Homo sapiens: one gene and its partner. The protein of the gene in region 1 interacts with the protein of each later gene in a biochemical or structural test. Each region holds a gene or a part of one and is shown on either strand. Other genes may lie near its edges.

Evidence for each region. Proteins that work in one complex are often made in the same cells at the same time.
Region 2: of the proteins of SGK1 (region 1) and RICTOR, one has a biochemical effect on the other in vitro, tested with the Homo sapiens proteins (one study listed by BioGRID).

What each region holds. Positions count from the first base shown.
Region 1 is NC_000006.12:134,167,415-134,175,112, reverse strand, and holds the end of SGK1 (serine/threonine-protein kinase Sgk1), read left to right. Parts: intron 1-246; exon of another isoform or gene 247-305; coding exon of another isoform or gene 306-381; intron 382-526; coding exon 527-602; intron 603-1,032; coding exon 1,033-1,108; intron 1,109-1,546; coding exon 1,547-1,651; intron 1,652-1,755; coding exon 1,756-1,839; intron 1,840-1,958; coding exon 1,959-2,090; intron 2,091-2,338; coding exon 2,339-2,451; intron 2,452-2,796; coding exon 2,797-2,920; intron 2,921-3,380; coding exon 3,381-3,476; intron 3,477-3,934; coding exon 3,935-4,090; intron 4,091-4,197; coding exon 4,198-4,287; intron 4,288-4,677; coding exon 4,678-4,845; 3' UTR 4,846-5,857; downstream 5,858-7,698. UniProt on the Homo sapiens protein: Serine/threonine-protein kinase which is involved in the regulation of a wide variety of ion channels, membrane transporters, cellular enzymes, transcription factors, neuronal excitability, cell growth, proliferation, survival, migration and apoptosis.
Region 2 is NC_000005.10:38,938,400-38,946,069, forward strand, and holds part of RICTOR (rapamycin-insensitive companion of mTOR), read right to left. Parts: intron 7,326-7,670; coding exon 7,092-7,325; exon of another isoform or gene 6,670-7,091; coding exon 6,514-6,669; exon of another isoform or gene 6,171-6,513; coding exon 6,047-6,170; exon of another isoform or gene 5,835-6,046; coding exon of another isoform or gene 5,802-5,834; intron 4,573-5,801; coding exon 4,434-4,572; intron 3,980-4,433; coding exon 3,905-3,979; 3' UTR 1-3,904. UniProt on the Homo sapiens protein: Component of the mechanistic target of rapamycin complex 2 (mTORC2), which transduces signals from growth factors to pathways involved in proliferation, cytoskeletal organization, lipogenesis and anabolic output.

The DNA.
Region 1 (7,698 bases):
GAGCCGATGGAGACTGATAACGGCCCTGCGCCAGGCCGTCCCCGGGCGGTCCTCGCGCCCCCGCCCGGGGCTCGCCCTCTCAATGGGGACAGAACCGCCCGCCGCAGGCAGCGTAGCCGCCAGCAAACCGCGAGGCGGCCGGGGCGGGGCGAGGGGCGAGGCGAAGGGCGGGGCCACTTCTCACTGTCGCGCAGGCCCCGCCCCCGCGGCGGTGCCTTTTTTATAAGGCCGAGCGCGCGGCCTGGCGCAGCATACGCCGAGCCGGTCTTTGAGCGCTAACGTCTTTCTGTCTCCCCGCGGTGGTGATGACGGTGAAAACTGAGGCTGCTAAGGGCACCCTCACTTACTCCAGGATGAGGGGCATGGTGGCAATTCTCATCGGTGAGTGCAGGAATCTTGCGGGACTTCTGCTCCAGGAGACGCAAAGTGGAAATTTTTTGAAAGTCCCGGATCAGATTAGTGTGTGTGGCGCCGGACGTTATGAAGCCGTCTAAACGTTTCTTTATTTCTCCTCCTTCATCCACAGCTTTCATGAAGCAGAGGAGGATGGGTCTGAACGACTTTATTCAGAAGATTGCCAATAACTCCTATGCATGCAAACAGTAAGTTTGACCGGATTTGAGGAAATAACTAGTATAGTTTGAATTTGCCAGCGGTAAACATTCTCATCACGGCGTTTATCGGGAAGGCGAAGACTTCTTCTGGGGTGGGGATCTCATTTCTCCTTAAATTCTAATATATTTGACACATTTTAAACATTAAAGTTAATTTGCTGATTTGGCTTGAACTGGAGATGTAAGATAAATGGTTCGTGTTGGCCGAATTCACGGCCTTTCTCCATGAGCAACAATCCTTATTTCTGTATTTAATGGGGTTTATTATTTTCTTTAACTGACTAATGTATTGGGGTATTTTCAGTTTAAACAGTGAATTATCCGGGTAGAAGTCGGTAGAGCCAGAAACTCACTTTTGATGTTGGTGTGCCCCCTAGTGGCGAGCTGGATTCTAAATCGTGCCCTTTATTCCCTGCAGCCCTGAAGTTCAGTCCATCTTGAAGATCTCCCAACCTCAGGAGCCTGAGCTTATGAATGCCAACCCTTCTCCTCCAGTAAGTTTTTGTATGTGCCGTGCATCTGTGGAGAACTGTAAGGGAGTCAGTTAGTATTCCTACATTAATGGATTAAAATAGCATTTCTAGAAATTAGTATCAAGGCAGGAATGCTTCATTATGGCATAACAAGTGATATAAATATTTAAGTATTGAGTCAGAGTATTATTTTATTTTTTTCCTGGGCATATTTTACCTCCAAAGTGGTTATTTTAAAAGGCATATTTCATAAAAAGGTTTTATCTGTCTGAAACAACATGACTGTGTGCAGTTTCCATACTCATTTGAAATGTGATGAAATGTAGTTTTGAATGTTTATAGATGTATGGTCATTTGCATCAGTCATTTGTAGATGTAACATTTTCTACATCGTTTATGTTATAGATGTCTTCCTTTGAAGCAATGGTATTAAAAGAAATTCTTTTTTTTTTTTTCTAGCCAAGTCCTTCTCAGCAAATCAACCTTGGCCCGTCGTCCAATCCTCATGCTAAACCATCTGACTTTCACTTCTTGAAAGTGATCGGAAAGGGCAGTTTTGGAAAGGTAATTTCAAATCTGAAGATCTTTTGGTACACTTCCTTCATGTCCTCTTTTGTATTCTCCCTGGATGAGGATAGAAAAATGATTTTTTTAAATTGAAATTTCAGGTTCTTCTAGCAAGACACAAGGCAGAAGAAGTGTTCTATGCAGTCAAAGTTTTACAGAAGAAAGCAATCCTGAAAAAGAAAGAGGTATGAGATGTGCTTGATGGGGCTGGCATTGGCGGTAGACACTCCTTGAATAATCTTGATTCTGGAATGTTGGTGCCAAGTTGAAACATGCCACTAAATCTGAATCGTCATTTTCCTAGGAGAAGCATATTATGTCGGAGCGGAATGTTCTGTTGAAGAATGTGAAGCACCCTTTCCTGGTGGGCCTTCACTTCTCTTTCCAGACTGCTGACAAATTGTACTTTGTCCTAGACTACATTAATGGTGGAGAGGTGAGCAGGGGGGATAGAAGTCAACTCTTAGTGTCTCTGCACAGCCTGCTTTGTTTTAGTTTGAGAAAAAAGTTTTCAAAGATTTTTGGTGGGGAGAATGTTACCAGAATTAGCATTTCCTTCAACCTGTCAGGTTTATAGTTAATAGATTACTTGGGGCCACTTCCTGCAGTTGTTCTTTTGCTGTGTATGTCAAAACTAATTAAATTCATTTGCAACCCAGAATGACTTTGTTCTGTCTCCTGCAGTTGTTCTACCATCTCCAGAGGGAACGCTGCTTCCTGGAACCACGGGCTCGTTTCTATGCTGCTGAAATAGCCAGTGCCTTGGGCTACCTGCATTCACTGAACATCGTTTATAGGTAAGCCTGAGAGCTCTTCAGGCTACCAGTTTTGGTATAAAGGAGACGTAGCACTGGCTGTTTCATAGGGCCTTAAAATAATTTGTGTTTATTTGCAACTTGGTTGCCTAAAACCAGATCCCCTAGCACGTGAGCTGGCTTGACTTAAGTGCCAAGGGGGAACCAGCCAAGTAGGATTGTGCCTAATCCAGAATAGATGAGCAGAACAAGGGCTCCCTTTTTTCTTCACTACACAACTACAGTGAACCTAAAATGCCTCTAATACCTTTAGCAATTATCTTTAAGAGGATATCTTATGAAGTGAAATTAACTTGTGCAACTACTTTTCTATTCACTTTTTTACAGAGACTTAAAACCAGAGAATATTTTGCTAGATTCACAGGGACACATTGTCCTTACTGACTTCGGACTCTGCAAGGAGAACATTGAACACAACAGCACAACATCCACCTTCTGTGGCACGCCGGAGGTAGGCGCTGTCTTGGTTTGGTGCCTGGTTTACCCCCGCCTTCCAAGAGAGAGATGTACAATCATGCACTTAACTACCAAAAAGAGTAAACTCCTCTCAGAGACTTCTTAATACAGTTCAGTGCAAATAAAATACATTTGCTGTTTGATGTAGCATGAGAAATCCCAAGTCCTTCTGTTCCTTTACTGAAAAGTAGCTGTTTGTAAGTAAGATCTGCATCATAAAAACTTTCTAAATCCCTAAGTAAGAGATATCAAGTGCCCAGCAGTTTCCTAAATGTCAGTACACATAGGTAGCCAGTCACCCTCAAAAAGTCCAGCAGTTTTATCAGGAAGGAATCTAAAGATATCTATCTTCCAAGCTGGCTCTGGGTCTCTCAGCTTTTTCAAACTAAATGTGTGGTCGTGGGATTGCTTGCTTTCGCAGGTTCTAAACGCTGTTTCCCTGGTCTGTTTTTCAGTATCTCGCACCTGAGGTGCTTCATAAGCAGCCTTATGACAGGACTGTGGACTGGTGGTGCCTGGGAGCTGTCTTGTATGAGATGCTGTATGGCCTGGTGAGTGGCACATTGGGAACCATGGAACACTGCCTGCTCCCTACAATATTGCCTTCACACAGCCCATGCTTGGCCATGGTGTCTTGCCCTTACCAGTACGCTTATCAAAAGCAGCTAAGAGGCATATTGGTTATTTTATAGTTCATAAGAATAATCACTTACCTGGTTCTTTTGTGCATTTCACATTTTACTAGATAGGACCACATTGAACCTGTGTGGTGGTGAAAAACTACCACTTATTAACATCTACCCCCTCACCCTCCACACACACACACACAAACACACACACGGGTTGCAAAGTAGACACTTAAATAGCAAGGGAAAAGAAAGCATTGAGGTGGGGAGAGTTTCTCAAATCGAGCCTAATATTTATTGCCGTTTATATCTTTTTCTCTACTGGTAATGTGTGCCATATGAAACTTCCAATTAAGTCTAAAGTAATTTTCCCCTTCTTTCAGCCGCCTTTTTATAGCCGAAACACAGCTGAAATGTACGACAACATTCTGAACAAGCCTCTCCAGCTGAAACCAAATATTACAAATTCCGCAAGACACCTCCTGGAGGGCCTCCTGCAGAAGGACAGGACAAAGCGGCTCGGGGCCAAGGATGACTTCGTGAGTGATGTTTTCCTGTCCTCCTGGGCCGGCCGGGACGTGCACTAGACCTCCCTGCCCTTATTGAATGCACCTGTCTAAATTAATCTTGGGTTTCTTATCAACAGATGGAGATTAAGAGTCATGTCTTCTTCTCCTTAATTAACTGGGATGATCTCATTAATAAGAAGATTACTCCCCCTTTTAACCCAAATGTGGTGAGTATCTGTCTCTCTTCTAAGTATAGAGAAGCCCAAAGGGCATTTATTTTAATTCAGAATTGTCTGGGGGAGGGTTGGAAGGAATACATTGGCAGATGTTTTCTCCATAAACCTGTTATTTTACCTACATAAAAAGCACATTTTTGTGTCCCAACAAGGCTCCCATAATTTTTAGACACATTTATCAATTCGAAGCACCAAAAGGCAACAAGTGAACATTATTCTTATGTTTAACTGTGTGTAGCCTTTTGAGATTTTGTGCTTGAAGTGGGTGATTATGGAAGTTGATATAAGACTTAAACTTGGTATTTAAAGCCTGGTCAAGATTTCCCTGTCCTGTGTCTAGTGTGAGTTCTTGACAAGAGTGTTTTTCCCTTCCCGTCACAGAGTGGGCCCAACGACCTACGGCACTTTGACCCCGAGTTTACCGAAGAGCCTGTCCCCAACTCCATTGGCAAGTCCCCTGACAGCGTCCTCGTCACAGCCAGCGTCAAGGAAGCTGCCGAGGCTTTCCTAGGCTTTTCCTATGCGCCTCCCACGGACTCTTTCCTCTGAACCCTGTTAGGGCTTGGTTTTAAAGGATTTTATGTGTGTTTCCGAATGTTTTAGTTAGCCTTTTGGTGGAGCCGCCAGCTGACAGGACATCTTACAAGAGAATTTGCACATCTCTGGAAGCTTAGCAATCTTATTGCACACTGTTCGCTGGAAGCTTTTTGAAGAGCACATTCTCCTCAGTGAGCTCATGAGGTTTTCATTTTTATTCTTCCTTCCAACGTGGTGCTATCTCTGAAACGAGCGTTAGAGTGCCGCCTTAGACGGAGGCAGGAGTTTCGTTAGAAAGCGGACGCTGTTCTAAAAAAGGTCTCCTGCAGATCTGTCTGGGCTGTGATGACGAATATTATGAAATGTGCCTTTTCTGAAGAGATTGTGTTAGCTCCAAAGCTTTTCCTATCGCAGTGTTTCAGTTCTTTATTTTCCCTTGTGGATATGCTGTGTGAACCGTCGTGTGAGTGTGGTATGCCTGATCACAGATGGATTTTGTTATAAGCATCAATGTGACACTTGCAGGACACTACAACGTGGGACATTGTTTGTTTCTTCCATATTTGGAAGATAAATTTATGTGTAGACTTTTTTGTAAGATACGGTTAATAACTAAAATTTATTGAAATGGTCTTGCAATGACTCGTATTCAGATGCTTAAAGAAAGCATTGCTGCTACAAATATTTCTATTTTTAGAAAGGGTTTTTATGGACCAATGCCCCAGTTGTCAGTCAGAGCCGTTGGTGTTTTTCATTGTTTAAAATGTCACCTGTAAAATGGGCATTATTTATGTTTTTTTTTTTGCATTCCTGATAATTGTATGTATTGTATAAAGAACGTCTGTACATTGGGTTATAACACTAGTATATTTAAACTTACAGGCTTATTTGTAATGTAAACCACCATTTTAATGTACTGTAATTAACATGGTTATAATACGTACAATCCTTCCCTCATCCCATCACACAACTTTTTTTGTGTGTGATAAACTGATTTTGGTTTGCAATAAAACCTTGAAAAATATTTACATATATTGTGTCATGTGTTATTTTGTATATTTTGGTTAAGGGGGTAATCATGGGTTAGTTTAAAATTGAAAACCATGAAAATCCTGCTGTAATTTCCTGCTTAGTGGTTTGCTCCCAACAGCAGTGGTTTCTGACTCCAGGGGAGTATAGGATGGTCTTAAAGCCAACCTACGTTCCAGGCCTTTTTAGCAGCATTTTATGGTGTCTGTCATTCATAAATCCATCCAAGGAAATCCTTTGCAATTTACTCATCTTGCAAGGATTGCTATGAAGTAATGCTTCCTGTATTTATTGCCTGTCCTGTGAAGTTGGACTATTTGTCCTGACATTTGGCTTGTCTTCAGTTACAGGTAATTCTTTCCAGAAATATTTGAAAGCCTACTCTGGGCTCTATTGCGAGTGCTCAGGATATCGTAGTGGACAAAGCAGACAACTTCGCCCTTCCAGAGCCTGATGAAGAAGGCCGACCTAAAGCAGTTAGTTGAGATGGAAATTGAGAAATAGTCTGTGAAGTTTAGGAGAATGCCACACAAGAGGGTGAGAATTTTTTTTTTTTTTTTTTTTTTTTTTGAGACACGGTCTTACTCTGTCGCCCAGGCTGGAGTGCAGTGGTGTGATCTTGGTTCACTGCAGCCTCCGCCTCCTGGGTTCATGTGATCCCCCCATCTCAGCCTCCTGAGTAGCTGGGACTACAGGCATGCACCACCATGCCTGGCTAATTTTTGTATTTTAGTAGAGATGGGATTTCACCATGTGGGCCAGGCTGGTCTCGAATCCCTGGCCTCAAGTGATCTGTCTGCCTCGGCTTCCCTAAGTGCTGGGGAGAATGTTTTAAATAAGTGGATATGTTCCCAAAAAGCTGACCTGGCTGGGACATCTGGTTTCTGAGAGTACCTGGAGTTGACCCAGGTCTAGAGTGAGCTCAGTAAAGGGACCCTGAAGGAGCTCATCCCTAGCTTGGACTGAAGCTTCTTGAGCCAGTGTCTACCTAGCACCCTAAGGGCCCAGCAGGCTCTGGGGCTGTGTGGCAGAGCCCACTCCTAGAGCTCACCCCACTGTGATATTACCTGTGGGAGAAAGCGAGGTGGCACCATCCTTGGAGATCTTGAGTCCAAAGGTTTGGACTTTTTCACTCTTCTAGGTCTTCCACACAAATACTTAACAAATAATCAGGGAATCCCCAAACAGTTGATGTTGCTGCTGCCTTAATTGCAAAAGCACCCTGTAGGCCTGCTGCACCCCCGCTACCCTGACCTTCCAGTTCGCACAGGGATTTCCCCAAGGGAAAGCTGTGAGCTTTTTTCCTCTTATCCTTGCTCTTGGGTCTCACCTCACTTTGCCTCAGTCCCCCTCTCCTACCCCACAAGGTTTCCAAGGGCCAAACAGGTGTTCAGAGATAACCGAGTTCTTCTCCCTCATGATCTAATGAAGGAAGAAGATGAAAACGAGTCGATAGCTTTTTGCTCAAGGTGGGCCACCGGTCATGCTCTGCTGTTGACTTACTGCTCTACAGGCATTAGCTACGTGTTCAATTCCCTACCGGGCCCAGTTGACAAATAAAGAGTCCAAAGCAAGGCCAGGCACGGTGGCTCACGCTTGTAATCCCAGCACTTTGGGAGGCCGAGGCGGGCAGATCACGAGGTCAGGAGATCGAGACCATCCTGGCTAACATGGTGAAACCCCGTCTCTACTAAAAATACAAAAAAATTAGCCGGGCGTGGTGGTGGGCGCCTGTAGTCCCAGCTACTCGGGAGGCTGAGGCAGGAGAATGGCGTGAACCAGGGAGGCGGAGCTTGCAGTGAGCCGAGATCGCACCACTGCACTCCAGCCTGGGCG
Region 2 (7,670 bases), on another chromosome or scaffold:
CACTCCCCCTCTCTGCCCCAAGACTTTGCATTTTGTGCTAAATCAACCAAGTAGCAAAATTGAAAGGTATGCTTTTTTTGGCATAAATTATATTTTTGAAATTAAATATTCTATAAAGAAAGTAAAACAAAATGTGCAATTTATGCATGCTGTGGTGCAGCTATCCGATACTTACATTACAAAAATACTCCAAACAGGAAAAAAGTCCACATTCTGTGAGTCATATAAACCTACTAGGAATGAAAAATACCCTGGAACTTGGAACTAAAAGAAGAAAAGAATGCTCCTAGAAAGATTCTCACAGATTTCAGTGTTCTTTGATAAGCACTGCTATTAATTTCACTGGTATGCTTTTAAATGAGATTCTCACTGTAATGACACTCTTGAGATTAAGATAGTAACAGTGTATTTTGTTAATGCAGAGACAATGGAGACTTCCTAACTTACATTTTGGAAAATCTGAAATGTTGGTTCATTCCAAATAGCTCCTCTAACAAAAGTCTCTCAATTTTACCTTTTCTTTTTTCCCCATGTTTTAATGGATTGTGAATCTGAGACAAAAGTGGAAGCATAAGACTAAAGGAGAAAAAACCTTACTTCCAAAGAACATTTCCCAAAGTAGTTTACAAAGTTCATCTCACACAAAATTAGCACCTCACTCTTACCATGCAAAAATAACTGCAGTTATAATTTGAATGACAGACAATTTGGTTTTTATTGCTTAATGATCTGTGCTTTAATGTGGGGATAAAAGGCATCCTCTGAATGGAATAACATTTTATATAAATAGCAGTAGGAAAATGTAAATAAGCATTGATATCCCACTGCTGAACACTTGGCCGTTGTGATATGCCCTGAAAAACTCAGCTTGAATTATCTCAAGCTCTAGATAAAAGAGCTGAAACCCATTAAAGTTGTCATTTCAAAAGGACTTGTACACATTATGTTAATAATGTATATACTTCCAAAGAGCCTCTTTTAATGTCACTGTCATATAGAATGTCCATATTCTACTAATCGTTATTAGAAAAAATTTAATTAGGGAGAACAGACTGTTTCCCCCTTCCAATCTACCTAAGAATAAACAGGAAATAAAAGTATAGGAAATTTTAGAGCATATTTAATTATGAATACTAAATTTCTAATTTCCTTATTTATCAGTATTTACTTAGTATGTGAGGCTGAAATCTGTTCTTGAAAAAAAGTTCAATTAGAAATAACAATTCACTTTACGATTAGAAATTCATAGTTTACAACCAGCACAACTGCCCAGATTCCTCCCAATTATTCAATAATTACCAATAGTACAAATTTATATGGACTAAGATTAATCCTAAAATCTTTAAAAACTACAGTATTGACATTATTTTGGTATTCTATAGTCTGTAATATCTATTATTTATAGATGATTTTCTCAATTATTTCTATTACTGCTGATATCATTCCTAACCTCTTCTGCTATAATTTAATATTTTTAAACACTTAAGTTAATCACTTGGCACTGCATGTATTTTTCACCATAAAGTCTACTTTTTACAAACAAGTACTCAAAGAAAATGTATTAGACCTGTCAGTGAAATCATGGAGAAACCAAATAGCACTATAAATTTAAGCGTAGACTTTTTTTTTTTTTTAGTATACTGATAACCACAAAGCTCTGAGTATCTCCCCAAAGTAAGTGATATAGGCAGATATGATAAGGTATACATACATATTTTTCAAAGTAACAGTAAAAAAAAAAAACAAAAAAAAAAACACAAAACATTCAGGCCAATACTAACTAAGCCTTATTTCAGGATAGATGACCAAGGTGAGGGTACAGGGATAGTGATGGTGGGGGAGGGGGTGTGTGTGTGTGTAAGACAAAAAAAAAATTACTGTTAACTTTTGAGGGATTAAACCACAGATTTTTATACTCTATATTAACTGAGGTAGTGTTTAAAATGAATGTCTAAAATATGTTAATCCCATTATGAATAAGATTACATTACTTCCTTTGGAGGTTTTAACCACTATTTGGTCTAGTAACTCTGACATTTGGTTCTCTGGAAAGGCAGTTTAGTTATCCAAGACCAAAGACCACGATGACAGGCAACGTTCTTAGAAGTACTGTTGACATTTAAATAAACACTTGGGTTCAGTGATAAAGTATAAAAAAATTATTTATCTTCAACTGGATTTTATGAGAGAAAATCTGAAGAACCACTTTTCAACATAAGCAGCAGCTTACAGCCCTTATCTGCTTTGTTATAATGTAAGTTGCTACACAGTGCACATAAGAACAATTCACTGAAGTGCAGTCAAAGAGGTGTTATGAAGTGAGATGAAATGCTTCATCCCAACTGGAACTTTCAGTTCCAGTAAATAAATTTTTTAAAAAAGTATCTCTGTGAGTTATGTTTTCTAGTTCACAGGGTTCTTTACAGAGATCTCAAAGAACAAGCCCATTACAAAAAGGATCTGCATCATGGGAAAATATTAATGTTGCTATGACTGTGTCAAAACTGATGTGTAATTGTAATAAAAATGTTATACACAAATGAATTAAAAAAGAATCCTAATCAGTCCAGCTGGATTTTCTATTTCTATTTATATATAGATCTCAAAAAAGATAATCCTTTCATTTACAAGCATTCAAATGATGGCCATGCTATTTTTATATACAAATTTGCATATATGTTTAATTCCTGTAAAAAGTTCCAAATACCTTTAGACATATACAAATTAAACAAACAAAAACCTTGCCCTCATCAACTTAACTTCACAAATGGATAAAGGCAATTAATATACTCATAAACCCACCTACCACTGCATTTAGTTTGTGCAAAACAAAAACACTGATATAAAAATTAAGTTACTGCTGCTTTAAAATTTGGTACTTAAGGCTTTTCACTACAATTTTTCTCAATAACAAGCTTTATTAATGTTTTTTTTAAGGAAATATGGCTCTTCTTTCCCCATGGAATGTGTAAATTGCAAGCAAACTTATCTTTTCCTCAGGAGATCCAAAGTATTATTTAATGCTTTCCTATCCTTTAGGTCTAAACTAACAGTGCTTGTTCAAGTTCCTGTTTAAAGCGATGAGATGGAAAGTTGATGAAAGTGGAAGTCCATTGCAAATATATGCATTCTATAAATGGGAAATATTTTTAATTAAAATAAAAAATGATTTTTAAATTTTATTCAAGAACTGTAGTGAAAAACCTTAATTGGTTCATATATCCTGTAATAACACATTGCAACAAAATGAAGAGTTGGAAAACAAGAATCTTTATGCAAGTCTAGTAACATAAAAATAACTTATAAGTCCCGGGTTGTTGAGGCTCTTCTTCTGCTTTGAGGTTATAAACCTCTGAAGTAGTGTTACAAACATTAAGAAAAACGTGAAAGGGCCAAAGTTCCCTCTCTAATACCAGCAGTTATAGCACACCCCATTGTGGTAATAGGATGCAGCCTTAGAGACACTGATTCCTGCTTTCCACAAGTTAGTTAACAAACAAGGCATCTGTATTATTTACCCTAAAAATCATTCAGAAATAACTTGTGAAGGGTGCTTCTGCATATCCCATTATTGTTCCACTGTCATTATGCTTTTAAAATGAAAGAAAATAGAAAACCTATGTAGGTATTCAGTGCTTGGCTCTTGCATACAATGGTAACTGAAACTCTTAAAACTGTGGTAATGAATCATGAACCCCTCAAAAGGCTCAACAAAGGAGAGAAGGAAGTTGTTTTGGTTAGGAAAGTCAGCAGTTCCAACTGTTCATGTACCAGTAACTGCGGAACAGTGTACAGAAGATACTCCTGTCTTTGCTGCCTAGTCAGTCGTATTTTCTGAGGCTTTTAGGAAATCCACAAATATGAATATATATAGTATGTATCTATATCCATCATAAATATGAGGTCAGGATTCAGCAGATGTATCAACTATAGGTTGCTTTGGTGGTGTTGCCAACACAGCCTCTGCTTCTTCATGCATCTAGGGAAAAAATGGTGTATCATCAATTACTTTTATAAAAACAGATGATATAACATATTTATATAAATATCTAATTTTTTTTTTTTTTTGAGATAGGGTCTTGCTCAGTCTTCCCAGGATGCAGCACAATGTTGCCATCTTTGTTCATTGCAACCTCTGAGTCCTGGGTTCATATGATCCTCCCACCTCAGCCTCCCAAGTAGCTGGGAATACAGGCAGATGACACCAACCTCGGCTAATTAAAAAAAAAAAAAAACTGTGTTGACACGGTCTCACTATGTTGCCCAGGCTGGTCTTGAATTCCTGGGCTCAAGCAATTCTCCCGCGCTGACCCCACAAAGTGCTGGGATTGTAGGCATGAGTCACCACACCCAGCTATAATCTGTATTTTAATTCAATTCAAACACAGAATTATTCTTGGAAGATAAATTTGAGAAGTACTAATCATACTTACTTGTAGAAACTGTACATCTTGAAATAATTCTTGTATGAACCTCCGACACGGAAGTCTGAATGTGCAGTGTGACAGCAAATGGGAAACCTCAGAGTAAAGGCATATGTCATCAAATGTTTGAGGATACTTCTCCTTAATTCTAAAATAAAAGATTATGGTGTGATGAAAACTGTAATCATGATGTATCTATTTTTCCTCCAAGGTATCACTTACTTTAAAAATAGATTTCCCTACAGATATGGATTAGATGGCATACTTGGGGTGATGACTTGAGAATATAAAATATTAAATATTCCTGTCACACACTTAGACATTCTGAGTTTGGGTTTTTTTTTAAAAAAAATGATTATCAAAACCTGAATACTTCTTGTAAAATTGAAGCATTCTTTTTTATTGGCATGAGAAATTGCAAAATATATTTATCAGCCTAGGATGATTAAAATATGTTCCAAATTAAGTTTTAAAATAGAAATACATCTTTAAAGTTAAGTTATTAACATCCCTGACTGGGCTATTTCTTTGGATACTTCAAATAGCAGCTTTTAGCTAGGAAAGCACCTCAGAATCAGCTGTGAGTTGGGTGAGTGACCAGTTAAGGGCCCGCTCCCAGAGCTCCCAGCCCAGAGGTCTGCTGTGGGACCCTGATACCTATGTGGGACCCCAATACCTATATCACCCTTAAAAAAAAGCCCTACAGCTGGCTGGGCACGGTGGCTCATGCCTGTAATCCCAGCACTTTGGGAGGCTGAGACAGGAGATCACCTGAGGTCAGGAGTTTGAGACCAACCTGGCTAACCTGGCGAAACTCTGTTTCTACTAAAAATACAAAAATTAGCTAGGTGTGGTGGTACACACCTGTAATCCCAGCTACTTGGGAGGCTGAGGCAGGAGGATTGCTTGAACCCGGGAGGCAGAGGTTGCAGTGAGCCGAGATTGCACCACTGCACTCCAGCCTGGGTGACAGAGCAAGACTCCGTCTCAAAAAAGAAATACAAAATACAAAATAAAAAAGCCCTGCAGGAGACCCTGAGGTGCATTTCTTTTAAGAACCACTGCTTTAAATAATAAGAAAAAAATTAAACCAAGAAAATATGACTTGTTACATGTAAGCCCACTTTCCTCAAACTTTTTGGTCTCAGGACTTACTTTCTTAAAAATTACTGAAGACCCAAAAAAGCTTATTTTTGTGTGGGTTACAGCCACCATTAACTACTATATTAGAAATTAAAATTGAGAGAATTTCCTAACATGCATTAATTTATTTTAAAAATAAATCCATTACATGTTAACATGTATTTTAATAAAAATAACTGTATTTTCCAAAAGTAAAAAAGTGAGAAGAGTGGCATTATTTTACATTTTTTGCAGATCTCTTCAAAAGTCTGGCTTAATAGAAGATAGCTGGATTCTCATACTTGCTTCTACATTCAATCTGTTGCCATATGTTGTTTTGGCTGAAGTATTAAAGAAAATCTAGCCTCACACAGGTATGCAATGCAGTTTAGAACTACTGATGTAAGTTAACTAGCCTAACTTTTGAAGTATTTCAAGTATCTTTTCTCGACTTAAAAAACAGAATAAACAAATAATACTCATGCACATAGTTTACTCACGTTAAAAGCCCAGTCTCATGACATTTAGTTGAAACTGAACTACTCAAATTAATGACTAATCTTAGAACTTCTTTGCGAAGGAGTATACGGCACATTGGTGTATCATCTGGAATTGTTTTAACACCTGAAAAGATTTCAGGGAGAAGTTAAATATTATCTATGTCACAATAAAATGATTAAAACTCATGAAATTTATTTTTAAACTTCACCTAAAGACCTAGAGATCAATTACACATGATCTACCAATCATTTTGGGAGCAAAACTCTAATAAAAGCAGATAGCTAAGAGGCTCTATGTCAGTGGGTGATATAGGTGCAATAATTAACAGTGTTAAATTGCTTCACTAAAATGGACGTATTACTGTTTTGAGACAACTTTAATTTACAGTATTTACGAAAAACAAAACAAAACCAACTAATCAGAACAGTTTTACTAATAATGATTGGATTTGAATCTGAAGACTCACCTAGTAACAATTCTGTGCTTTTGGTGCTGCTAGCTGAGCCTTCTTGAGACACCCCATCACTGCATCCAGAAATCCCCGAAAACTTAGAGGGAACCACTTCTAAAGGATTATGGATAGTCTGCTCACACCAATCAGAATATGGAATATCTTGAAAGTCTGAAGAAAAAAATAATTATTTCAATTAAAGCACCATAACGGCTTAATTCCTGTGCTTACATTGCATGCTAAAAAGAAATAATATAAAATAACATCTTCTCTAATTGTATGCAATATACCAAACACTTCCAAAACTTTTTTCCTCATAGAAAATGAAAATAACTACAGCATGCAAAGGGCCTGGACAGGGCTGTTCACAGTGGAAAAGACCTAATCCAGGGATCTGTCAGACTCAGGCCCCACTGTGACCTGGAACCGTGAGAGGATCAGCATCTCAGCATAACATAATTTGGCATATCAGTGTGCTGCAGCTCACCAGCTGGGAAACTCTGAATTAGAATACCAAAAAGAAATTTGGAAAAGTAAACCAGAGAACTTTAGTCATCACTAGGTTTTTCTGAAGGTGGGACGTGATCACTTACCTGAATGACTACATATTGCACTCAGTTGGTTGCTGGGCTGGAAACCCAGAATTTCAATACAGACACAATAAAGGCAGTTATCATCTGTATGTTCCTGTAGTCCAGTGTCTTCTGTACTTTCTAAAAACAGAGAGGCATCTGAATGGATTGAATTCATTATTTCCGTAAGACTCATCTGCTGTCGTAGCAAGTGAAAAGAATTTTTTACAAGACCTCCAGTTCCAGATGGAAGACCTGTGCATAAGTAAATATAAAACATAATCCAATAAAGATAATACTTTTCAAGGTACCTTAAATTATGTGAAATTTTAAAGAAAGCTTAAGCACATTTTATGACTCAAAATCTAACTGGAAAGAAAAAAAGAATAATTTGCTTTAAGTTATAAAAATAAGGAAAGCCAGCAGATGTTTATTATTTTAATATATAGTGTTTTAAATACAAAATGGAAAATTGAGATTATATAATACATCATTTCAATTATCGTCAATATTTGCCTAAAGATATGTAATAATTCTAAGTATAAAGAGGCATTTGTTTAAAAAGTCATTAAGAATATAAAGCTATAAAACCTGTGGCTT